Homo sapiens: one gene and its partners. The protein of the gene in region 2 interacts with the protein of the main gene of each other region in a biochemical or structural test. Each region holds a gene or a part of one and is shown on either strand. Other genes may lie near its edges. The genes, in order: PDGFA, COL2A1, MAG and PKD1.

What was found.
Region 1: the proteins of COL2A1 (region 2) and PDGFA form a complex in vitro, tested with the Homo sapiens proteins (one study listed by BioGRID).
Region 3: the proteins of COL2A1 (region 2) and MAG form a complex in vitro, tested with the Homo sapiens proteins (one study listed by BioGRID).
Region 4: the proteins of COL2A1 (region 2) and PKD1 form a complex in vitro, tested with the Homo sapiens proteins (one study listed by BioGRID).

What each region holds. Positions count from the first base shown.
Region 1 is NC_000007.14:509,835-516,868, reverse strand, and holds part of PDGFA (platelet-derived growth factor subunit A isoform 2 preproprotein), read left to right. Parts: intron 1-4,413; coding exon 4,414-4,518; intron 4,519-5,872; coding exon 5,873-6,060; intron 6,061-7,034.
Region 2 is NC_000012.12:47,973,443-47,980,476, forward strand, and holds part of COL2A1 (collagen alpha-1(II) chain isoform 1 precursor), read right to left. Parts: intron 6,621-7,034; coding exon 6,567-6,620; intron 6,123-6,566; coding exon 6,069-6,122; intron 5,317-6,068; coding exon 5,155-5,316; intron 4,957-5,154; coding exon 4,849-4,956; intron 4,676-4,848; coding exon 4,568-4,675; intron 4,212-4,567; coding exon 4,158-4,211; intron 3,986-4,157; coding exon 3,878-3,985; intron 3,714-3,877; coding exon 3,660-3,713; intron 3,478-3,659; coding exon 3,370-3,477; intron 3,126-3,369; coding exon 3,072-3,125; intron 2,629-3,071; coding exon 2,521-2,628; intron 2,164-2,520; coding exon 1,875-2,163; intron 1,421-1,874; coding exon 1,233-1,420; intron 890-1,232; coding exon 647-889; intron 112-646; coding exon 1-111. UniProt on the Homo sapiens protein: Type II collagen is specific for cartilaginous tissues. It is essential for the normal embryonic development of the skeleton, for linear growth and for the ability of cartilage to resist compressive forces.
Region 3 is NC_000019.10:35,302,155-35,309,188, reverse strand, and holds part of MAG (myelin-associated glycoprotein isoform a precursor), read right to left. Parts: intron 6,742-7,034; coding exon 6,481-6,741; intron 1-6,480. UniProt on the Homo sapiens protein: Adhesion molecule that mediates interactions between myelinating cells and neurons by binding to neuronal sialic acid-containing gangliosides and to the glycoproteins RTN4R and RTN4RL2.
Region 4 is NC_000016.10:2,088,208-2,090,932, reverse strand, and holds the end of PKD1 (polycystin-1 isoform 1 precursor), read left to right. Parts: coding exon 1-49; intron 50-124; coding exon 125-259; intron 260-342; coding exon 343-648; exon of another isoform or gene 649-738; coding exon 739-1,206; 3' UTR 1,207-2,225; downstream 2,226-2,725. Other genes in the region: TSC2 (tuberin), read right to left, coding at 2,323-2,487, 2,608-2,706. UniProt on the Homo sapiens protein: Component of a heteromeric calcium-permeable ion channel formed by PKD1 and PKD2 that is activated by interaction between PKD1 and a Wnt family member, such as WNT3A and WNT9B. Both PKD1 and PKD2 are required for channel activity.

The DNA of each region.
Region 1 (7,034 bases), on a different chromosome or scaffold from region 2:
AGAAGCCGGTGTCTTTCTGTTTTCACGACCCAATGAAAAGCCTTGGACGCATCTGCTGCCTGGGGGCTATTTTTGCGGCTCACCCTCGGGCCCTGGGGCCGGGCCACTAGAGAACACAGCTTGTTTGCAAGCACAGAGTTTTGCTGCGGGTTGGCAAGGGTTAAAGGGGCCTCTCACCCCGGGGGACCCCGGTGGACCACGGGTGGGTGGGAGGGGCGAGGGTGTAGGGTGGCCGCCCGCCCGCTCAGGGCTAGAGAGCCCCTTCCTAGAAGGCGAGGTCTCTCTTCCAGGCGTGCGTGGCGCTCTTTTCAAAATGAGCACTCGGCCTGGGAACTCCAGTCGGAGCCTTAACCTGGTTTAAAAAGGGGCTCTGCGATGAACTTGTTAAAAAGAGTAACTAAAGGCAGCAGAATTGGAAGAAGTTACGTGACATGAAGATTCTTCTCTCCCTGCAAAGGACTCTGAAAAAGGGGGGGCATGCGGGGATTAAGTGAAATCACATGGTCTAGTCATTTGGAAATTTGTACCTAATTATGGTGGTGGAGAGGCCTGAACTATTTTCGTTTCATGCCAAAACCATTTTCTAACAAGGCCGATGGTTTCTGTAGTTTCTTGACCCAGGAAATCCCTGGGCTGATCCTTATCGGGGGCGGAGGGTGGGGGGTGCGGTAGAGTTTCACTCCCACAGCACAGCTGGGCGGGGGGATTTTGACCGGATCCCTCAGTGGATAACTCTAGGGAAAAGGATCTGGCTCTGGTTTGTGGGGGGGAATCCCTTGCCTGAATCTCGCTGGTCCTGGATGGGTTTGGAAAAGTGGGGGGGGGGGGCTGCTTCCTGGAGAAGGTTTCAGGGCTTTTTCTGGGGGGGGGTGCTAGCAGAAGGGGAGGCTTGTGGAGAGCTGGGCCTCCTCGTGGGACTGGCTTTGGAAGCTGCAGGGAAATGGGCCATTCACTTTCTGCTGGGACTATTCTTATTCTGGTCTTGGCGCCCCGCCTCCTCCACCCCCACCCATTATCGCCTTTAGCATTGCAGCTTCGTGGGGTATGCTGATGGCATTCCTCACCCGGGGGCTTCTAGGTCGTAGGGTCCGAACAGAAAAAAACAAGGATGCCCCTAAGCTAGTCCTGGCCGGTTTCAAATTCCCTCTGCAGTCATGTCCCAGGAGCTCTCTCCTCCTGCCCCAGGGAATGCAGAGTGGATCTCAGCCCTCCTGTGTCCGTGAGAGGTTTTGGGGTCTGAATAGGATTCTCCTAGTGTCTGGGAGGCTTTGTGTGTGAGAATATGGGGGTGGCATCTACCTCCTCTCTTGCCCCTGGTGGGGGACCTTTTGTAACATAGGGGGGCCTCCTTGGTCCTGTCCAGTCCCCTCCCCAGGTGTGGCTGAAAACAGAACCAGAGAAACCCACAGTCTCTCGCCTGAGGACAGGAGAGGCACCGGCTGCTCCTCCAGCTTGTAGGGGGTGTCTTTTCTTCAACTCCCGTTCTCTGTCGTAGGGAGGGTTGTAAACTGGTTGAGGTCAGTTCTCATTGGGTAAGCATCCCTCCGGGTCCTGGACTCCCTTTTCAATCCAGAGGTGCTTCTGGTCTGTTAGGGGCAGGGGACAGTGCAGGGGCTCATGAGGAAGGGGCTGGGTGCTGGGAGAAACCCAACGCAACGAACTTTCCCTCGGAGTCCCTTTATAACCCTTCCAGGCTGATGTTCTTGGCATTAGGTGCCTCTAAGGCCCACGCTGTAGGAAGCAGAAAAGAGGCTTTGAGGAATCCCAGGGGTGCGCCCCAGCTATGCTGACTCCTCCTCCAGGTGGGTGGGGCTTTGTGACTGGCATTTGGCTCCTCCCAGCATGCAGGCTGCGTCCCACTGTACAGTTGGGGAGACTGAGCCAGGCACCGTCTGGGGTCTTGGCCGCTCCTTGACTGTGGCTGGAGGAGCACGGGTAGTGGGATTCCTCACCATCCTCCCGGAGCCCAAGCGTTTCATTCGGAGGGTGTGCTGGAGTGAAGAGTGAAGGCTTTTCACCTGTGGCTTTTAGATCCAGAGGCCAGCATGTGGTCTTTTAATGACCGGCAGCCCGCGTTTAGGGCCTGTTTGTCCTGTGTGCAGTGGCAGCTGGGGAGCTTTGTTCCCCAAAGTGGTCTGGCCTGGCGCCCGTGGTTCATTGAGCGGCTGATAACGTAAATAGCCCCATCTCGGGCCAGTAATGCCAGACCAGGACTGATGGTTGGGAGATTCTCCCTGTCCTGGAGTTGTCCTTGGGACATCTGTGCCTAAAAGACAAAAGGGAAAGCCTCCTGGTTAACTGTCCTGGGAGCAGTTTTAGGGGTGATTCTTGCCGGCCAGGCCACCTGGGCCTGGGCTGCTCAGAGCTGTGTTTGGTGAGCTGTGGGCGGCTTTGGTGAGCGTGGTCCACTCTCGGCATCTTGAGCTGGGAGCAAAGGGTGGGCTTGGTAGACTGGGAGCTATTCCCCCTCTGTCCCTTGTCTCAAGAAATTTGCCAGCTCAGGCTTTCTGGGGGTCAATGAGCTAGCACGGCTGCCGTCTTCTCTGTTTATTAAGCCAGGGCTAGAGGGTGGCGGGGCACGGGGACTGTGCTCTGTGGACGCAGACCACATGAGTCTCCTGCGAGCCACTTCTGGTCCTGTTATATTTCTCTGGGCCTCAGTTTCCTCGGATGTGAAGAAGTGATAGCACCCACCGCACACTCAGAAGCTAAGTCATTGGTAAAGCAGCTAATGCAAACGTGGCTATCACAAGGCATCGGAAAATGGGAGCTGGTGTTATTGAATTTTCTCCTACGAGTGGAGAACGGACCCGTTACTCTTTGGTTTGGCCATGGCAAGATGGCCACCACCAGGATGTGATTCATAAGTGTCACTTTTTCATGAAAAGAAATGCTGCTTGTAACAGTTGGTTGATGGGAAATTCTTACTGCATGAGTAGTTCTGTTCTGATCTTATTTTGGGTCTCAAAAAAAATTAGTGTCATTGGAACATTGAGTCATTTTCGGTAAAAAGTTGGGCTCCGGGCGAGCTTCGTCTTTGCCTGACACCTTCTGTGAGGTTTGCGGGCTTCATTTTAAATCCGCAGGCTCCTCGGGGGTGCGGAGGAAGCTGAGGTTTCTCCGGTTGGTTTGTGGATAGTCACGGATGCCTCGATGGGCTGGGGAGAGACACTTTGGGCTGCTAGTCCTGAACCCAGGAGGTGCAGAGCCCATTAGCCGTCTGGATTGGTGACCGGGACTTCCCAAGCTTCCCAGGAGGGGGCAGGGAGATCTCTGTGCCTCTGGAGCATCCTGGCTGTGAGGCTCACTGTCTCCGCGCCTGTTCACCCTTGGTTATATGGTGGGGGGGGCAGGATGGAGGGAGATGGGAAGAGACTCCCCAGCTGGGACCAGGGGGCCAAGGCAAGGAGGCCCAGAGCCACCCGCGGTGCCCAGGTGCGGGCAGTGTGTCCATGGGCAGGACTGTGGGTCCTCTCCCTACTGCGGGATTTGGAGAGACCTGAGACTCCCCCAGCCTGTCTGCTGTAGCCGTCAGCGCCTGTGAAGGGGTGGTGTGTGCAGCTGGGTGGGGTGGCGGGGATAGGTTCTCAGTTCTGCTCCCCGGTCAGTGCTGGTCTTGGCTCTGGGCCACTGCCCCACCTGCACCTGGCCGCCTGGCTGTAAACACGGCTCGCAGATGCCAGCTTCTCTCAACCCCTCTCCGCAGGCCGCCTCCCTCTGTCAGGCTGCGGGAACTCCTCCGTGTAGCCTCCACGAGAGGCCACGTGCCCTCCTGCCTCTCCTCATGGCCGCTGGCCCTAGAGTAGACTCATTTCAGGAATGAGTGGGGTCTGGCCCGCAGCCCAGTCTGGCGGCTTCCAGTGCCCCTCAGAGGTTAGGCCACTTCTTCCAGGAGTGCTTTAGTGAGGGGGAGGGAGGGAGACGTACAGGCACCTGCAGAAATCTCAGCGGCCTCTGCTTCTCCCTCGCTCCAGCCCCCAGACAGAGGTGGGGCCTGGCTTAGCCCTGTGCCCCTCGGGGAGGTGCACGGAGCTGGGCGGCCTCAGGCCCCTCCTGCCCCGGGGCAGCCCTCACCTGGGCTACCTTGGAGGAGGCACCGTAGGGGAGACCACCTGCAACCTCTTCCCCGAAGGGCCCTGCGCTTCGTCACGGGCCCCTGAATGTGGGGACCTCTGTGCTAACGGGGCGTTTTCTGCGGTTTCCAGTGTTTCATGCCCTGCATCTCTGGAAAGCCCTGGTGGGAATCGAGGTTCTCCTGGAGGGCCCCTAATGGCGGGAGCTGTGAGGGGCTGTGCCGCCAGGTGCCTGTTCCCCAGTGGCTCCCAAAGCTGGTCTGTGGGAAGTGCGGCTGGACAGGCCCAGGGCACAGCGCACGGGCCTGGGGCATTCACGGTGTTCTCCTTCCGCCTGCAGGGAGTGAGGATTCTTTGGACACCAGCCTGAGAGCTCACGGGGTCCATGCCACTAAGCATGTGCCCGAGAAGCGGCCCCTGCCCATTCGGAGGAAGAGAAGCATCGGTGAGTCCAGGAGGCCGCGATGGGCAGGGCAGGGCCGGGTCAGGGTGAGTCCAGGAGGCCGCGATGGGCAGGGCAGGGCCGGGTGGGGAGGAGCTGCCCGCTCTCCCAGCGCAGTGGCCTCAGGCAAGCCACCCGTTCCCTCCTCCCTAAAATAGGCCTGGCCCTGGTGCCTCTGGCTCTGGCCTCTCCCGAGGCCTCCCTCCTTCGAGGGTGTCTCCTGCCCCAGCCCGCCTGCTCCTCCTGGAGTCCTGGTCTGGGCCAAGAGAGCTTCCAGGAGAGAAGAGCCATCATAAATTCCTTAAGCGCCCTGTCTTGTCGGGGCCTGTCCCCAGGAGCCTTGCCGGAAACGTGGTCGCGCCTAATTTCCAATTCGCAGTGTGGGCATCGTGCTCCTGCGCCGGCTGCTGAACTGGTGGGGACGCGCGTGCTGTGTCCGGCGGCTGCCCCCCGACACCCTCACCACACCCGTGTGCCCCGCCCCACTCACACCTGGCTCCAGGGCTCCACCCCCGCGTCCATTTGGGGGATATTTTGTCCCTTCTTACAGGACAGCCCCATGGCCCTCCAGCCCCCTGAGGAGGAACTAGCAGGTTTGGGGAGTTCAGGGGCCAGTCCCTGCTTTCTACCCAAGTCCCGCGTCCTCGGGGGTCCCACCTGATGGGTTTGAGCCCTGGTGCTGCTCATGGCTCTGGGGCCCTGAGCAGGTGGACCCCCCTCTCTGAGCTGTGGTTTCCTCCATGAAGATGGATTTTGTATCTTCCACCTTAAAGTGTCATGTGTGGCTGGCTAGTCCCAGCTGATGCAAGCAGGCCCTCCCCAGGTGACATTTGCTGTGGGGTCTGCATTTTGCACCCTTCAGACCACTTTTGAAGGCTAGAGCATGCAGCAAGTGCTGTAGGATTCACTGTTAAGGCCCCCTCCTCCCCCAGCCACTGGCCCCACCTGGACTAGGTTCCCCTCTGCCCCTGCCACCCCCAGTCTCTGGCCCCACCTGGACTAGGTTCCCCTCTCCCCACCCCCAGTCTCTGGCCCCACCTGGACTAAGTTCCCCTCTCCCCACCCCCAGCCACTGGCCCCACCTGGACTAAGTTCCCCTCCCCTCCGAGCCACTGGCCCCACCTGTCCAGGTCCCTCCAGCCTGCAGGCACCGGGCTGGGCTCCTCTGGATGTGTGGTGCTCCTGCCCACCCAGCCCCTAAGCCTCTGCTCCCAGCTCAGCCTCTGCTGCCTGGGAGGAATCCTGGCCTGTGGCTTACCCTGGTTGCCCCCCAGGCCCAGCTGGAGCCGCCTCAGCCCTGGGGTGGGGCCGTGGTCGCAGAGGCCGGTCCCCGCTCACTGTGCCCCCGCCGTTGCAGAGGAAGCTGTCCCCGCTGTCTGCAAGACCAGGACGGTCATTTACGAGATTCCTCGGAGTCAGGTCGACCCCACGTCCGCCAACTTCCTGATCTGGCCCCCGTGCGTGGAGGTGAAACGCTGCACCGGCTGCTGCAACACGAGCAGTGTCAAGTGCCAGCCCTCCCGCGTCCACCACCGCAGCGTCAAGGTGAGCCCTCCCCTCCCCTCCCCTCCCCTCCCCTCCCCTCCTCTCCTCTCCCCTCCCCTCCTCTCCTCTCCCCTCCCCTCCTCTCCCCTCCCCTCCCCTCCCCACCCAAGCCCGGGGCCGCCCCTACCAAGCAGCCAGGGTCCCTCCTGCATCCACCACCACAGCGTCAAGGTGAGCCCTGCCCCTCCCCTCCTCTCCCCTCCCCTCCCCTCCCCTCCCCACCCGAGCCCAAGGGCCGCCCCTACCTAGCAGCCAGGGTCCCTCCCGCGTCCACCACCGCAGCGTCAAGGTGAGCCCTGCCCCTCCCCTCCCCTCCCCACCCGAGCCCGGGGCCGCCCCTACCAAGCAGCCAGGGTCCCTCACGCATCCAACACTGCAGCATCCAGGTGAGCCCTGCCCCACGCAGGCCTGAGGGTCGCCCCTACTGGGTTGCCAGGGTCCCTCCTGGGAGGCCACAAGGTGCCCCTGGTGTGGCTGGTGGGGGTGCACGGCTGCGCTCCCATCTCCCTGGCAGGTACACTGAGGCCCAGGGAGGAGAAGGAGCACCTGGGGGTGCGGGAAAGGCAGGGCCGGCCGGGGCTTCTGCTCTGCTGCTCTGGCGACGAGCCTGGCCTCCTTTCCACGCCCTAGACCACAGTGCGGGGGCCGTTTTGGGCCTTGCGAGGTGTCGAGCTGCTTAGCCGGAAGCTGTCTGGCGTCCCCGGGCCCTGGAGGGTCCTGTGCGGGCTCTTCAGTGGGGGCCGAGGTGCATGGCAGGAGGAGTAGGGGGTGGATATTCAGAGCCTGCATTGCCTTTTGAAGTGCCTGACCTTTGGAGGGCCCCCCCGGCTTCCCCCCTAAAGCAGCCCAGGAGAAGGAGAAGGAGTGCTTGGGGTGGGCTCGAGGCCAGACAGCAGACTTCCTTCCATAGAATCCCAGGGTGAGCCCCTCTTTCTTTAAGTTGGGGGTGGTGCCTGCCTTCTTCAGGCTGCTTT
Region 2 (7,034 bases):
TTCCTGCTCGGGCCCTCCTATGTCCATGGGTGCAATGTCAATGATGGGGAGGCGTGAGGTCTTCTGTGACCGGTACTCGATAACAGTCTTGCCCCACTTACCGGTATGTTTCTAGGGGAGAAAAAAGGAGGAGGCTCTGTTCAGTAGATGCCTTGCTACCCAGTTCCAGCTGCCCAGAAGCCCAAAACTGAACAAACTGGCGAGCATCAGAGCCCACAAGGTTGAACCACACTGAGGGGGCTCCTGAGACCTCTTCTTGGCTTGCCAAAGGCCTCTCCACTTCAACTCCTATCCTTAGCGGCAGGGCCCTTCTCCACCCTGCCCTTCCCCTCCTTCCCCACTCCCCACAGTGAGCTCCCAACCTGTGACCGCTTCTTCACCCTGTACACATTGCGAGAACACTTCTACAGTAGTCACTGGGTTCCAGGTAGGGTTTTGTTCCCCTGAGCCAGGGGAATGGAGAAGATGGAATGATATGTGCCTCTCTCTCACCTGTCACTCAGCCTATCTTCTCTACATGACCCTCAAACTCATGCCTCTGATGATCCTGTCACTTTAGGACCTGACAGCTGCCGCGGGCCAACCCTCAGCCCTGCTCCAGGCGGTTTGGGCACAGGCAGCTCTTCTCTCTGGCAGCCCCACTCACCGTGCAGCCATCCTTCAGGGCAGTGTACGTGAACCTGCTATTGCCCTCTGCCCGGATCTCCACGTCATTGGAGCCCTGGATGAGCAGGGCCTTCTTGAGGTTGCCAGCTGCTTCGTCCAGATAGGCAATGCTGTTCTTGCAGTGGTAGGTGATGTTCTGGGAGCCTTCCGTGGACAGCAGGCGTAGGAAGGTCATCTGGACGTTGGCAGTGTTGGGAGCCAGATTGTCATCTCCATAGCTGAACTGTTGGGGCAGAGAGCGGCAGTGTGAGGCCTGGGAGCTGGCATTCAATGGGACCAGGGGCTGTAGGGGCTGCCAAGAGTTCATGGTTCAAGGACCTCAAGGGTACTGGGGCAGCAGGGAGCTAGTTGGACATTTTTGCTTCCAGGAGTGGAGCAAGCTCAGAGGACCTCTTTTCCCACCTCCACGTGGGGAAAAAATACTTTTCCTCCTCTTTCCCTCCTCTCAAGCCCAACAGAAAACTGGAGGAAAATATGGGGAAGGTGCTAAAAGCTTCCAGGGAGAAAGAAAAGAAAGAGTTTGAGGAGCCATCTCTGCTCATCATCTAGGGCACCCAGGTACTCACATGGAAGCCACCATTGATGGTTTCTCCAAACCAGATGTGTTTCTTCTCCTTGCTCTTGCTGCTCCACCAGTTCTTCTTGGGAACGTTTGCTGGATTGGGGTAGACGCAAGTCTCGCCAGTCTCCATGTTGCAGAAAACCTTCATGGCGTCCAAGGTGCAGCCTTGGTTGGGGTCAATCCAGTAGTCTCCTGCAGGGGGAAGAGGCAGCACCCATGGGGGCTCAGACAGGCACAGACACAAAAGCTTGAGAGACCCAGGCCTGACTGAAAGAGACAGAGAGGCCTACAGGGACAAGGGATGAGGTTCACATGTGGCCTGAAAGGAGGGGGACCTGGGAGGATGCAGGGGCAGGGAGATCTGCATGAGCTAAGTCCAGCCCTAAGGAAGAACACATGCAAAGAGAGCAGAAGCAGTGCCCAGCTGGTGGATGGAGTCCACCCTGAGGTCACCTCGGCCAGGTAGCCATGGCAGGACAGGGGCCAGGGCTGCAGCTTCTCTGCTGTGAAATAAGAGAGGAACCCTCTGGCGGAAACTTCCAGGCCCAGCTCTGCCCTGTACTAGGGGGCATCTCCTCCCTTGCTGCTAGGCCTAAGGGATGACTCCCTGCTTCCCGGGGCAGGGGATCCTGTTCTCCAAGCTTACCACTCTTCCACTCAGGGTGGCAGAGTTTCAGGTCTCTGCAGGTGCGAGCAGGGTTCTTGCGGGAGCCCTCGGGGCTGCGGATGCTCTCAATCTGGTTGTTGAGGGACTTGAGTGTGGCATCCACCTCGGCGTCATGCTGTCTCAGGCCACCGGCTGCCTGGTCGGCCCGCATGTACTGCAGGGGGTCGGGGCCCTTCTCTCTCGGGCCTAAGCCAGCAAAGGCGGACATGTCGATGCCAGGGCCAGGGGGACCTGGAGGACCAGGGGGTCCAGGATTTCCAGGAGGACCCTGCAGCAGGAAACAGAGAGATCAGCCAGGATTGTGTGAAAGTGCCCCTCCATGTCCATCCCCATTTGCTAGAATGTACTAGAGTGTCCCTCTTCCCAGCCCCATGGGTGGGGCGGAGGTGTAGCAGGCGAGGACCAAGGAAACCACAGCACCATGTCTATTTCTTCCTTAGCCCTTCTCTTCAGTTTCCCAGCACTGATCATGGGCCCTGTGACCTCTGAGGAGACCTCAGGATAAAGGATGCCATCACTGTTAGCTGCAGGCTGATGCCCTAAAAGAGGCCCTGAGCAAAAAAGAGCTCAAGCCTCCCGGATGGTAGGGACACCTCGACAGCAGGGAAGGAGTCAGGACACTTACAGCAGGGCCGGTTTCGCCTGATCGTCCACGGGGACCAGGAGGCCCAATGGGGCCAGGGATTCCATTAGCACCATCTTTGCCAGAGGGACCGACGGGGCCAGGAGGACCCTGCAAGAGAGAGAGGTCGTGAGGAAAGAGTGGTCACCACAGGGAAGGCTGGGGAGTCGCTGGGGCTGGGTAGGTGGCTGTCCTGATAGCACCAGCCACTCCGCCCCCAGTTCTTCACATGCTCAGTCATGGAACCCTAAGTTGGTCTCTATTTGGCCAAGAACCAGCAGGATAGCTCCATGGCTTGCCTACCCTCCTAAGCTCCTCTTTGTAAAATGCTGTTCTGTCTGACAGCGAGAGGCTGATTCATGTTTGTCTTACAGCCATTGTGGCCTCAGGCGCTTTTCTGGCCATAGGCACATGAGCCAGTCCTGCCCCCATTACTGAGTGAGGACCCCTGAGCCCACAGCTTCCCCAGAAGCAGCAGCATTTCCCTCCCCATGGGAACACAGGCCCACACTCTCTGAAGGGCCCCCTCCATCTTCCAACTCCATGTCACTTACTCTAGGGCCAGAAGGACCAGCAGGACCAGAAGCACCTTGGTCTCCAGAAGGACCCTGTGTAGAAGGAAGAGGCAAAAGGCCACGGTCAGCACAGACATATCTATCTATATTCTGGGAGCTGGGGGAACAGCTTTATGTCCCAGCCCCATTCCCTTTCCACTTCCTCCTCCCTCCAGCCCTGAGGAAATCCTAGAAACTGCTTAGGGTGATCCCAAGCTGTCCTGGCAGCACAGGGAGCTCAAGTGGGCTCTGTGTGGCAGGAGGCCTCGGGAAGTCCCACGCAGGCAGTGACACTCACAGGAGGGCCGGGCAGACCCTGCAGACCAGTGAAGCCACGGTGTCCCTTCAGGCCTCTCTCGCCAGGCTCTCCAGCCTCTCCTTTGTCACCTCTGGGGCCTTGAGGACCCTGGGAACAAGACAGACACCGATTGAGTCAGGTCAGGGCCAGGACAGGAGCCCCCTCCTGTCCCACCCAAGCTGAGGAATCCCCGGAAACACAGGGCTGGAGGCCCAGGAACCACCTGGAGGCTGGCTGCCCTCCCAGCCTATCCCTGGTGGGGACTCAGTGCAGGACACTTGGATACTCACCTGGATTCCCCGGGCTCCAGCTGGTCCTGAGGGTCCCATGGGGCCTTGTGCACCCTGAGGAGAGAGTGAGCGCAGCGTCAGAGAAAAGCCAGGACAGGTGGGGGCCTCCTCTGCATCTGAGGCCACTGCTCCTTAGTCCAGAGACTGCGGAAACCCAGGGACTGCCTCAGCCCCACCGCGCAGGGGAAGGCGGCTTTTACTGAATTCAGGATACTTACAGCTTCTCCTCTGTCTCCTTGCTTGCCAGTTGGACCAGCGGGGCCAGGGGAGCCAGGGGGCCCAGGGGCTCCAGGAGCTCCCACAGCACCAGTCTCACCACGATCACCCTGTCAGGAGAGAGGTCTCAGGCTCAGAGAAGAATGTTCCAGAAGAGACAGGAACAGAAGGTCCTTCTAGGCTGAGATGAGACTTGTTCCAACCTGCCACCCCCAGCTGACCTGTCAGGCCCGAGGCAATGTCCTCCCCAACCCACTGCACACACAGACACCAGACACTCACCTTGACTCCAGCAGCGCCATCTCTGCCAGGGGGGCCATCAGCACCGGGGCTTCCCTGGACAAAGTGAAACAAGAATGCACTTAGAGCTGCTTCCTGCCCATCTCCCCCTCTGCTCCCCCAGCCCCTCTCAGAAGCCCAGGCCTCTCCTCTTCTGCCCAACTCACTCACACTTTGAAGCCAAAGTTTCCTCACCAAGTTTCCCTCCTCCTTCCGGAAGCAGCCCTTGGTCTCTATGCCCGTCTCTCTCCCCGACAACCTTCCCATTGTACCTAGGCTTTCAGGCCTGTCGGCCGACACTGCCACCCCCTTCTCCAGGGCCCTGACTGGGACTTGTCCTTGCTGACCCAGCACAGAGACTCACAGGGCCCCTCTCCCCAATCAGGGCCACCCCAGGGGGTCTCACTGCTCACCTCTCGTCCAGGTTCACCTGCAGGACCCGTCAGGCCAGGAGGACCCACGGGGCCAGGAGGACCTCTGTCTCCAGATGCTCCAGGAGCACCCTGCTTGCCGGGCTCACCCTGGAGGGACAGAGACAAGGATGATGAGTGCAAGTGGTAAGCACCCCTGCCCAGGGCCCACTGACCCTTCAGGGAGAGGGCAGACAAGGGACAGTCCTGAGGGTGCTGAGGGAGGTAGAAGCCTTGGCAGGCAGGGCCCAGCTTGGATGGAGGGAGGGATACCCCACACTCACCGACGGGCCAGGCAAGCCAGGGAATCCTCTCTCACCACGTTGCCCAGGCAGACCGACGATGCCTCTCTGACCAGCCAGACCCTGGGGACCTGGTGGACCTTCGGCACCCTGAGAGAGGAGAGGCAGGAGATGAGAACTGACAGTGGCCCAGCCTCTTCTGTCCTCTCAGCACAGCTCTGTCTGTGCAGCCCCGCTCCCTGGCATCCCCACGGCCCCTGCTCCCTCCTACCCCATGCTCTGTGAGCTCAGAAGCCACTCACGACCCTGCTCCCAGGGACCTTGGCATGGGCCTGGTGAGGGACTTACAGAGGGACCGTCATCTCCAGGCTCTCCCTTCTCGCCAGGGGGTCCAGCAGGACCTTGGAGGCCGGGTTCACCAGCTCGGCCAGGGGGGCCGCTGTCTCCTCGAGCACCTTTGGGACCATCTTTTCCAGAAGGACCAGGGGGACCAGGGGGTCCAGGGTTGCCCTAGAAGGAGAAAATGCGGGAAGTGAGGACTCATCTCACCCTTCCTCATCCAGGCTGCCAAAGTCACTGTGGCCTCAGTGACAGCAGTTTCCTCTCTGGGGGCTTCTCTACCTCCCCACACTAAGGGCAGGCAGCTTAACCCCCCCAACCCCAATCTACCGCTGCAACCTTCTCACCATGTGAGACAGCTCTGGGCAGACAGCCCCAACTTCTCCAGCTCCTGCTTGCTTTGCTTTCTCCCATCTACCTGGAATCTCTCCTCCCTCCTCCCTTTGTCCTCAATCCCCCTTCCTCAGGAGCCGCTCCAGCCCTGCCCCTCTGACCCCTGAGCTTGCCCCCAGCACTCTCTCCCTCTGCCTATGGCGCTGGTGAACCCAGTGAGTTCATCACCACTGCTCCCTCCATGCAAACTCCCTGAGAGCGACCCAGGACATGCGGACTTGCTTTAAAGCACACAGACAAGTGCACAGAACATGCTCAAGAAACATCTGTCCAGGATGAAGGTAATCATGGCAGCCCTGTCCTGCCCACCAAGCCAGCAGGGCAGCCACCCATTGCTGACAGCAGGGCCACAACCCTGCCCCCAGCCACCCTCAGGGGATAGGTCCCCATGATCAGTTAGCTACTCCTCCAGGGGGCAGGAACGGACTCAGAGGAGTGAAGGCCAGCCTGGAGCTCTCCAGACCCTGTTGGGTGCTGGGCCAGGCTATTCCATGCCTGCCTGTGCCTCTCATGCCAGGAGCATCACTTACATTGGAGCCTGGGGGTCCAACGCGGCCAGCAGCTCCAGGGAATCCAGTGGCTCCCTGTGTGGGGAGAGGAGAGCCCCTGAGAACCTCAAGCCCTCAGGAGGTTTGAGATTAAAATGGGCGGGGGGCGGGGGTGGTCTCAGAGCCTGGTATGGAAAGGGCGAGGGACTGCAAAGCAGCAAGGGGGATCCAGGGAGGGAGAAAGGGCCCCCGGGTCTGGTCATAGAAGCAGGCACAGGCTGTTTCCCTGCCTCCGGTTTCCACAGTCAGCACTTCAGGGAGCTGAACGAGGGACAAGCCTCGGGCTGGGGAATCCGGGACCACAGTGCACCCAGCCCACAGGCGCCCTCTCTCCCACCTGGCTGTGGGTGGGCTTAGGCTGGGGACCAACGCAGGGCTGGGAAAACAGTCGGGGGCATCCCAGAACACCCCCGCCATGGGAGCCTCTGGGGCCAGGCCTCTTTGTGAGGTGCAGGGTGGGGTGTCAGAGGCCTCACTCACCGGGGGGCCTTGGGCACCTCGGGCTCCTTTAGGACCAGTCACTCCAGTAGGACCCTGGAAAGGAAAGAGGGAGACAGTGAGGCCCAGTGGCCCAAGGAAGACGGTGGGCTTCTGTCTGAGCCCCAACAATGGACCCCTGAGGTTTTCGAAGATGCAGCTTTCTTGGCACTAAAAACCCAGCCTGAAGAGGCTGCCACAGGCAGCTCTGTCCCCTCTGCCACAGGAGACTTGTGTTCTAGGAGAAGCCTGTCAGGCAACCACAGAACCGGTCTGGGGTCTGGCCTCCCGGGAAGCTCTTCCTGCCACCGCCCCCTCCTCCCCAGGAGATCAGCAGCTTGGTTCTGGCTGGCTGTGGCCAGCCTGTACTCTGTCAGTCCCTACACCCCACCCACACAGCCCACATGCCACATGGAAGCTCCTTCTACCAACATGGGGGTGTTCCCAGGCCTGCGAACCATCCTCTGCGCA
Region 3 (7,034 bases), on a different chromosome or scaffold from region 2:
TGCCACTTTTGAGGCGACTCTAGCCTCAGCTTCAGCCTGGACAGAGCACTATGTCACAGGGACGGGCCGTTTCTCCTGGGCCCTGGCTCTTACACTCTCTCTAACCTCATTCACCTTGTAATACATAAATCAGATCATGGCACTCTCTGCTCAAAACCCTCCTTCTGTTGCTCCGTGGTTCACCTAAAATACAAATCCTTTATTTTTTATCGTTTAGAGACAGGGTCTGGCCCTGTCGCCCAGGCTGAAGTGCAGTGGCAGTACTATAGCTCATTTGCACTCTTGGCCTCTAGTGATCCTCCCGCCTCAGCCTCCCAAAGTGCTGGGATTACAGGCATAAGCCACTGCGCCCAGCCACATTTGACCATTTTTGACATGCAGAAAAAATTTCACATAGTTCAATGTAATGTATACAGCAAAAAGTACGAATATTCACCCTAAATGAAATCAGTATAGATTACAAACAGCCTTGTGTTCTTTAGGCGAGATTTTGCTGTCAAATCAGGGTGGTGCCAAATTTGCAAAAAGCCTTTTGATTTTAAAGCTTTATGTTCAGAATTGCAGAGGACGGTAAATCTGTCATACTCATGATAGTTACTGGAGGGTTTTTGTTTGTTTTTGTAGAGACAGGGTCTTGCTATGTTCCCCATGCTGGTCTTGAACTCCTGAGCTCAAGCAATCCTCCTGCCTTGGCCTCCCAAAGTGCTGGGATTATAAGGCGCAAGCCACTGTGCCCAGCCCAAAATACAAAGTCTTTCATCTACAAGGCCCCTCAGGCCCTGCCTGACCACACACTCTCTCCTTCTCTCCCCCTGGCTTAGTCCTTTCCAGCCACACCGGTTCCTTGCTGTGTCTGAAAATCGTGGAGCTTTCTCCCACTCCAGGGTCTGTACGTTTCTCCCTCAACTTGGAACACTTCCATCAGTTGCCTGTGGAACGCCCTCCCTCGCTCCAAACTGGCCTCTACCCATGCGGCGTCTCCTTCTCTGACCACCCAGGGAAGCTGCACCTCGCTCCACGTATCATTCACTCCCTGCCTCACTCAGTTCTCCTCCCCAGCACTCACCCTCCCTGCATCACACACTTACATAAGGGGCCTCCTGTTTCCATCAAGACAGGGGCTTGCTCCTTCTCCACTCTGGGCCCCACACGTAGAAGGGAGGAACCATGGAACTCTCCCAGCCCCCGGCCTCCCCAGACCCTTGGGGCTCACACAGGCTTAGACTATCCCCTCCTTTCTGGCTTCCAGGCTGTGCTCCTTCCTTTCAGTCTGCGCTGCAGATGCCCCCCACTTCCTCCCCTAAAGCCGCCTTGAACCCCGGCCCTTCCTCACCCATGAGATTCCCTCCTGCCACTAGCACCAAACACCACCCTCCACCCAAAGTCACTTGGTTGAGCTTTGCTTTGCTGCCACTGGATTACAAAAATAGTACTGGTAGGTTTTTTCTTTCATTTTCCAAAACAGGAAATTATTATTATTATTATTGTTATTACTATGATTTTTGAGACGGAGTCTCTCTGTCGCCCAGGCTGGAGTGCAGTGGCACGATCTCTGCTCACTGCAACCTCTGCCTCCCAGGTTCAAGTGATTGTCCTGCCTCAGCCTCTTGAGTAGCTGGGACTACACGTGCGTGCCACCATGCCTGGCTAATTTTTGTACCAAAATACGCAATTGTATTACAGCACAGAATGCTGCTTTTTAAACTGTGTTCTCTTTCTTGGCCTGAGAGTCCAGCACCCTCCTTGGCTTGCTCTAGACTGAGCACTGGTTCTCAGTGAGTTCTCACCAAAACCCACTTACACACAGGCAAGAGACCCTTGGCTCACCTACCCCACCTATTTTCAATTGCTAGCAAAAAGAATGTGCCGGTAACGGTGGTGGACCTGGGAGTCACACGGGCACACGGATTCACGGCAGGAATGGGAACCTCTGTGCAAACATCTCTAAGTCTACTGAATAAAAAGTCCTGTTCGGGCAGAGCTGCAATATGCTTGCTATAGCGTTAACCAGCTAACACGCCACGGAGTACATTAATAACAGCGAACCTGAACCGACAGACATAAAACTTTTTCAAAGCACTTCCACTCAAGACAGCCCCACTGGTGCTCTGGTGACAAAGTGTTCGACCTGGATGTCGGCGGAACGCCGACACCCTGCCGGTGCACGTGCTTAGTATCTTTTCAGACAACCTGTGAAGCTGCGGAAACTGTTATGGGACTCTAGACAAACCTGTAAGACAAAGGTACAAAGAATGAGGAGTTTGTGGTGGGATGGATTTGGCTTGAATCCCAGCTCTGCCATCTACTGGCTGGGTGAGGCCACTCAGGCTCCTGGGCCTCTAGGATGGAGTTCTCATCTGTGCAAACCAGGGGGTTACAGTCAGTAACTCACAAGGGGCTACGGGACTCCGAAGATAGGCGCGCAAGTGTGTTGTAAACACTTAACATCCCAGCCGGGTGCAGTGGCTCACACCTGTCATTCCAGCACTTTGGGAGGCCAAGGCAGGAGGATCACTTGAGCCCAGGAGTTTGAGACCAGCCTGGGCAACAGAGCAAGACCCCATCTCTACAAAAAATTAAAACATTAACTGGGCATGGTGATGTGTGCCTGTAGTCCCAGCTACTCAGGAGGCTGAAGTGTGAGAATCAGTTGAGCCCAGGAGGTTGAGGCTGCAGTGAGCGATGATCAAACCACTGCATTCCAGCCTGGGCAACAGAGCAAGACCCTGTCTCAAAAAAATAAAAAATTAAAATTAAAAATACGTAACATCCCACCCAAGTACTCATGGGTGGATAGACAGAACCATTCCCGCAGAGAGGTCACATGAGCAAAACCTCAGCAGCAAAACACACAACAAATATTTAACCTGGAGTCCAAAGGAAAAATCAGTGAGAAAGATGATGACATCCAATATCCACAGAGTATGTAGCACTATGAACACTCAGTATTGTTCTCTTAGTTCTTCTTTTTTGTGGGGGAGTGGGGGGGTGGGACAGTCTTGCTCTGTCATCCAGGCTGGAGTGTGGGGGTGGGACAGTCTTGCTCTGTCATCCAGGCTGGAGTGGGGGGATGGGACAGTCTTGCTCTGTCATCCAGGCTGGAGTAGGGGGGTGGGACAGTCTTGCTCTGTCATCCAGGCTGGAGTGGGGGGATGGGACAGTCTTGCTCTGTCATCCAGGCTGGAGTGGGGGGGTGGGACAGTCTTGCTCTGTCATCCAGGCTGGAGTGGGGGGCTGGGACAGTCTTGCTCTGTCATCCAGGCTGGAGTGCACTGGCTCCATCTCAGCTCACTGCAACCTCCACCCCCCGGGCTCAAGCGATTCTCCTGCCTCAGCCTCCTGAGTAGCTGGAACTGCAGGTGTGCGCCATCACGCCTGGCTAATTTTTGTATTTTTAGTAGAGATGGGGTTTTGTCAGGTTGGTCAGGCTGGTCTCGAACTCCTGGCCTCAAGTGATCCAACTGTCTCAGCCTCCCAAAGTGCTGGGACTACAGGTGTGGGCCACCACGCCCAGCCTAATTCTCTTAGTTCTCACAGCCATCTTTGTGGTAAGATACTGTTATGAACCCTTGCTAAGGGTTGCAAAGCTGAAGTCACTCGCCTGAGCTCAGGCAGGAGGATGGGGACAGAGCTGGGATTCTAGCCCAGGTCTGTTCAGCCCTGTTGGGACTGGATGCCAGTCAAACTTCTGTTTCCTTGTATTAAACTGGGTTGAAGAATGGTACCCTCCCCTCAATCACATGGTTGTAAGAACAAAATAGGTCAATGCGTACAACGTACTCAAGCTAGTTCCCTAGACATCTCAGGCACTCGGTAAGGTTGCACACTTCCTGCATGCCCCGTGCCGTTCAGGGCTCTGGGGTTGGCAGGTAAGACAGAAGGCCCTGCTCAAGGGTCACCACCACTGTCAGTGAACATTGGAGACCTGGTGCCAGGGAACATTGACTGTGTGGAGAGGGAGGGGGCCTGAGGGTCGCACTCTCCAAGGGCAAGCACTTTGACACAGGCCTGGGTGAAGAGTAGGGAGCTGGCAGGTGGGGCAGGGGACAGGGCCACTGCTCCCCTCAAGTCTAGCAGGTGAGGCCTGCACACTCCACATCTGCCTGCGTGTTCGTTTTCAAGAGAAGCCGGATTGAGTCCTAGAGTGCTAAGAGCTGTGAGGGAGGTGAGGCAGCCAGAGGTTTAACAGCTGGGGCAGACAGGAGTCTGGAATTATCGGGCTCGGACCCACTTTTATAGCTGCCTGGCCTCAGGGAATTCCGCCCTTGAGTTTTCTCCTTGGTAAAGGGGATAATTATAACACACCCCTGTTTCACAGGGTGACCCTAGAATTGAAAATGAGCCAGATAGGCTGGGCATGGTGGCTCACACCTGTAATCCCAGCACTTTGGGAGGCCGAGGCGGGTGGATCACTTGAGACTAGGAGTTGGAGAACAGCCTGGGCAACATGGAGAAACCCCGTCTCTACTAAAAATAAAAAATTAGCTGGGCATGGTGACGCATGCCTGTAATCCCAGCTAGTTGGGAGGCTGAGGCAGGAGAATCGCTTGAATCTGGGAGGCAGAGGTTGCAGTGAGCCAAGATCGTGCCACTGCACTCTGGCCTGGGTGACAGAGCGAGACTCAGTCTCAAAAAAAAAATAATAATAATAATAAAAATAAGAACTGAACCAGAAAACAGCTGTAGAGGATTCAAGGTCTGGCCCAGGGCAGGCCCCTAACGCGCATTTGCTGCCTGCTGCTCTTACTATAAAGGAGAGATCTGCACCCCACCGGAAAATGTATGTGAGTTGGTGCTGCAGGCTTGTTCAAGTACTCCCATCGGCTCCTCTCTCTGACTCTTAAACTGAAGAATCACTGGTGTGGGGTGTAACAGGGATCAGGGGACAACCAGAGGGGGAAGCTGGCCCAGGATAGCACGCACAGTTGGAGGGAGCAGGGGACCACGCAGCCCCGCGCCAGGATCACATCAGCCCCGCTAGGGAACAGAACCAGGAGGGAAAGTGCCTGAAGATTATAGGTCAGCAGGAGAGGGACGGCTTTGCCACGAGAGGTTGCCCCCGAGGACTAACCTGTATCTGCCATGTACTGATTGTCGCCATGTACACAGCACAGAGCATGTACTGTGTAGCAGACACTGCTTTGAATTCTTTGCATGTTGAATGTCATCGAACCTTCTGGCAAACTTGTGTGGTGGGGGCCATTGTGGGCATCGTGAAGACCAGAGAGGTGAAATTTGGGGAGGAGTGCTAGAAGCCAACAGGAACTTGGGAGGAAGCAGGGGAAATGGAAACAGGAAGGCGATATTCCAGAGGGAATTGCTTAAGGAAGGGGAGTCAAAACTGTGACTTGGCTGCTACAACCTGGAGTGATGGCTGTGGGGGTAGGGGTGGTGGGAGATGGTGGCACAGTCCATAGTGAGGAGATGAGAGGCGCTGGCCAGCGGTGCAATGGTGAGTTTCATTTCCAAGACAGTAGCTTTTTATGTGCATCTGTGTCATCTCTCCAGCTATTCTGTACCTGTTCATAAGCGTGGTGTCTTCTCAGCCCTATCCTCCACCTCTCACAGAGCCGCACAGCCTTTTGTGTATAGCAATTACCCCATCAATGTATTCTGCTGTCATAACATAGGATGAGGTCAGCCTTGGGCAGGGAAGAAGAATGGAACCAGACTGCCTGGATTCAAACCTCAAATTCTGCCATTTCCTGGCTGTGGGAACTTAGGCAAGTGGCATAACCTCTCTGGGTCTCAGTTTCCTTCTCCGTAAACAGGGAAACAGTAATAGAACCTCCCTCATGAAGATGTCATGAGGATTAAATGAGTGGGTTGCTGTACAGCGCTTCCAACAGTGCCTGGTACATAGCGACACTCTACACAGGTTAGAGATCATGGTCATTGTTTCGGTTAGTGCAGAGGGGCAGTGGCCACAGGATCCAGAAATTTCACTGGTCAAAAGCCCACCCCAGGCTGCGCGTGGTGGCTCACGCCTGTAATCCTAGGACTTTGGGAGACTGAGGCAGGCAGATCATCTGAAGTCAGGGGTTTGAGACAAGCCAGGCCAACATGGCGAAACCCCGTCTCTACTAAAAATACAAAAATTTGCCAGGTGTGGTGGCGAGCGCCTGTAATCCCAGCTACTCAGGAGGCTGGGGCAGGAGAATTGCTTGAACCCAGGAGGCAGCAATTGCAGTGAGCCGAGATCCTGCCACTGCACTCCAGCCTAGGTGACAGAGCAAGACTCAATACTCTGTCTCAAAAAAAAAAAAAAAAAAAAAAGCCCACTCCCGGATGTGGGAACACAATATTCTCAGATGGGATTTTATTTTCCTGCTGTGAATTCAGCTTCCCTGCCCTCCCTTCCTTGTCTCTGCGGAGGACAGGCAAAGCCAATACTGATTGGGATGCGTGGGCACCCACAGTAACCCTGGTGTCCCCCACGGAACCGTCCATCCCCAGCATAGGGGAGCGGAAGGTACTCACACTCCACAGACAGGTTGAAGGCGGTGGCCCTCTGGCCATACTGGTTCTCAGCCACACACCAGTACTCTCCATCATCCTCGGGTGACACGGCCGGCAGCTCCAGCTGCAGCTCGCTCTCGTAGATGACCGTGGACAGGATCTGCTTCTCCTTGAAGATGGTGAGAATAGGGTCCGGGTTGCTCTGTGTGGAGCACAAGATAGAGACCGTCTCCCCCTCTACGGCCACCATTGTCCCGTTCACTGTTGGCTTCCAGGGTGCATCTGCGGGGTAGGACGGGACTGATGGTCAGAACCCAGGAGGTGCTTCTTCTGCCAGCCAACTACCATCCCCAGATATGACCCCAGATCCCACCCCAAACCTAGCACACCGGTTCAGGAAGGCTCAGGTGACCCCAGTCCTGGCTATCTCATTTCCAAGAACAGCAGCTTGGTAGCCAGCATGCTTGTCTTCAGATCCCTACTCTACCCCTGTCCAGTTGTGTGTGGACCCACATCTTAACCTCTCTGGGCCTCATTTTTCTCATCTGGAAAATGGGCTTCATAATAGTTCCAAC
Region 4 (2,725 bases), on a different chromosome or scaffold from region 2:
CGCAGCCCGTGGCCTGGCGGCCTCGCTGCTCTTCCTGCTTTTGGTCAAGGTGAGGGCTGGGCCGGTGGGCGCGGGGCTGGGCGCACACCCCAGGGCTGCAAGCAGACAGATTTCTCGTCCGCAGGCTGCCCAGCAGCTACGCTTCGTGCGCCAGTGGTCCGTCTTTGGCAAGACATTATGCCGAGCTCTGCCAGAGCTCCTGGGGGTCACCTTGGGCCTGGTGGTGCTCGGGGTAGCCTACGCCCAGCTGGCCATCCTGGTAGGTGACTGCGCGGCCGGGGAGGGCGTCTTAGCTCAGCTCAGCTCAGCTGTACGCCCTCACTGGTGTCGCCTTCCCCGCAGCTCGTGTCTTCCTGTGTGGACTCCCTCTGGAGCGTGGCCCAGGCCCTGTTGGTGCTGTGCCCTGGGACTGGGCTCTCTACCCTGTGTCCTGCCGAGTCCTGGCACCTGTCACCCCTGCTGTGTGTGGGGCTCTGGGCACTGCGGCTGTGGGGCGCCCTACGGCTGGGGGCTGTTATTCTCCGCTGGCGCTACCACGCCTTGCGTGGAGAGCTGTACCGGCCGGCCTGGGAGCCCCAGGACTACGAGATGGTGGAGTTGTTCCTGCGCAGGCTGCGCCTCTGGATGGGCCTCAGCAAGGTCAAGGAGGTGGGTACGGCCCAGTGGGGGGGAGAGGGACACGCCCTGGGCTCTGCCCAGGGTGCAGCCGGACTGACTGAGCCCCTGTGCCGCCCCCAGTTCCGCCACAAAGTCCGCTTTGAAGGGATGGAGCCGCTGCCCTCTCGCTCCTCCAGGGGCTCCAAGGTATCCCCGGATGTGCCCCCACCCAGCGCTGGCTCCGATGCCTCGCACCCCTCCACCTCCTCCAGCCAGCTGGATGGGCTGAGCGTGAGCCTGGGCCGGCTGGGGACAAGGTGTGAGCCTGAGCCCTCCCGCCTCCAAGCCGTGTTCGAGGCCCTGCTCACCCAGTTTGACCGACTCAACCAGGCCACAGAGGACGTCTACCAGCTGGAGCAGCAGCTGCACAGCCTGCAAGGCCGCAGGAGCAGCCGGGCGCCCGCCGGATCTTCCCGTGGCCCATCCCCGGGCCTGCGGCCAGCACTGCCCAGCCGCCTTGCCCGGGCCAGTCGGGGTGTGGACCTGGCCACTGGCCCCAGCAGGACACCCCTTCGGGCCAAGAACAAGGTCCACCCCAGCAGCACTTAGTCCTCCTTCCTGGCGGGGGTGGGCCGTGGAGTCGGAGTGGACACCGCTCAGTATTACTTTCTGCCGCTGTCAAGGCCGAGGGCCAGGCAGAATGGCTGCACGTAGGTTCCCCAGAGAGCAGGCAGGGGCATCTGTCTGTCTGTGGGCTTCAGCACTTTAAAGAGGCTGTGTGGCCAACCAGGACCCAGGGTCCCCTCCCCAGCTCCCTTGGGAAGGACACAGCAGTATTGGACGGTTTCTAGCCTCTGAGATGCTAATTTATTTCCCCGAGTCCTCAGGTACAGCGGGCTGTGCCCGGCCCCACCCCCTGGGCAGATGTCCCCCACTGCTAAGGCTGCTGGCTTCAGGGAGGGTTAGCCTGCACCGCCGCCACCCTGCCCCTAAGTTATTACCTCTCCAGTTCCTACCGTACTCCCTGCACCGTCTCACTGTGTGTCTCGTGTCAGTAATTTATATGGTGTTAAAATGTGTATATTTTTGTATGTCACTATTTTCACTAGGGCTGAGGGGCCTGCGCCCAGAGCTGGCCTCCCCCAACACCTGCTGCGCTTGGTAGGTGTGGTGGCGTTATGGCAGCCCGGCTGCTGCTTGGATGCGAGCTTGGCCTTGGGCCGGTGCTGGGGGCACAGCTGTCTGCCAGGCACTCTCATCACCCCAGAGGCCTTGTCATCCTCCCTTGCCCCAGGCCAGGTAGCAAGAGAGCAGCGCCCAGGCCTGCTGGCATCAGGTCTGGGCAAGTAGCAGGACTAGGCATGTCAGAGGACCCCAGGGTGGTTAGAGGAAAAGACTCCTCCTGGGGGCTGGCTCCCAGGGTGGAGGAAGGTGACTGTGTGTGTGTGTGTGTGCGCGCGCGCACGCGCGAGTGTGCTGTATGGCCCAGGCAGCCTCAAGGCCCTCGGAGCTGGCTGTGCCTGCTTCTGTGTACCACTTCTGTGGGCATGGCCGCTTCTAGAGCCTCGACACCCCCCCAACCCCCGCACCAAGCAGACAAAGTCAATAAAAGAGCTGTCTGACTGCAATCTGTGCCTCTATGTCTGTGCACTGGGGTCAGGACTTTATTTATTTCACTGACAGGCAATACCGTCCAAGGCCAGTGCAGGAGGGAGGGCCCCGGCCTCACACAAACTCGGTGAAGTCCTCCACCGAGGAGATGAGGCGCTTCCGCTGGCCCACCTCATAGCCAGGTGTGGGCTCGGCTGGAGTCTGTGCAGGGGCTTTGCTATGGGACGGAGGGTGCACCAGAGGTAGGCTGGGGTTGGAGTAGGCGGCTTCCTCGCAGATCTGAAGGCAGAGGCGGCTTGGGCAGTAAGTCTGGGAGGCGTGGCAACCGCTCTGCCCACACACCCGCCCCACAGCTTGGGCAGCCAGCACACCCCGCTGAGGGAGCCCCATATTCCCTACCCGCTGGCGGAGCCGCTTGATGTGGCGGAGCCGGGCAATCCACTTGGAGGGGTAGATATCGGTGGGGTTGGAGCGGCTATGATGCACCTGTGAGGCCATCTGGGGACGTAGGCAGGGG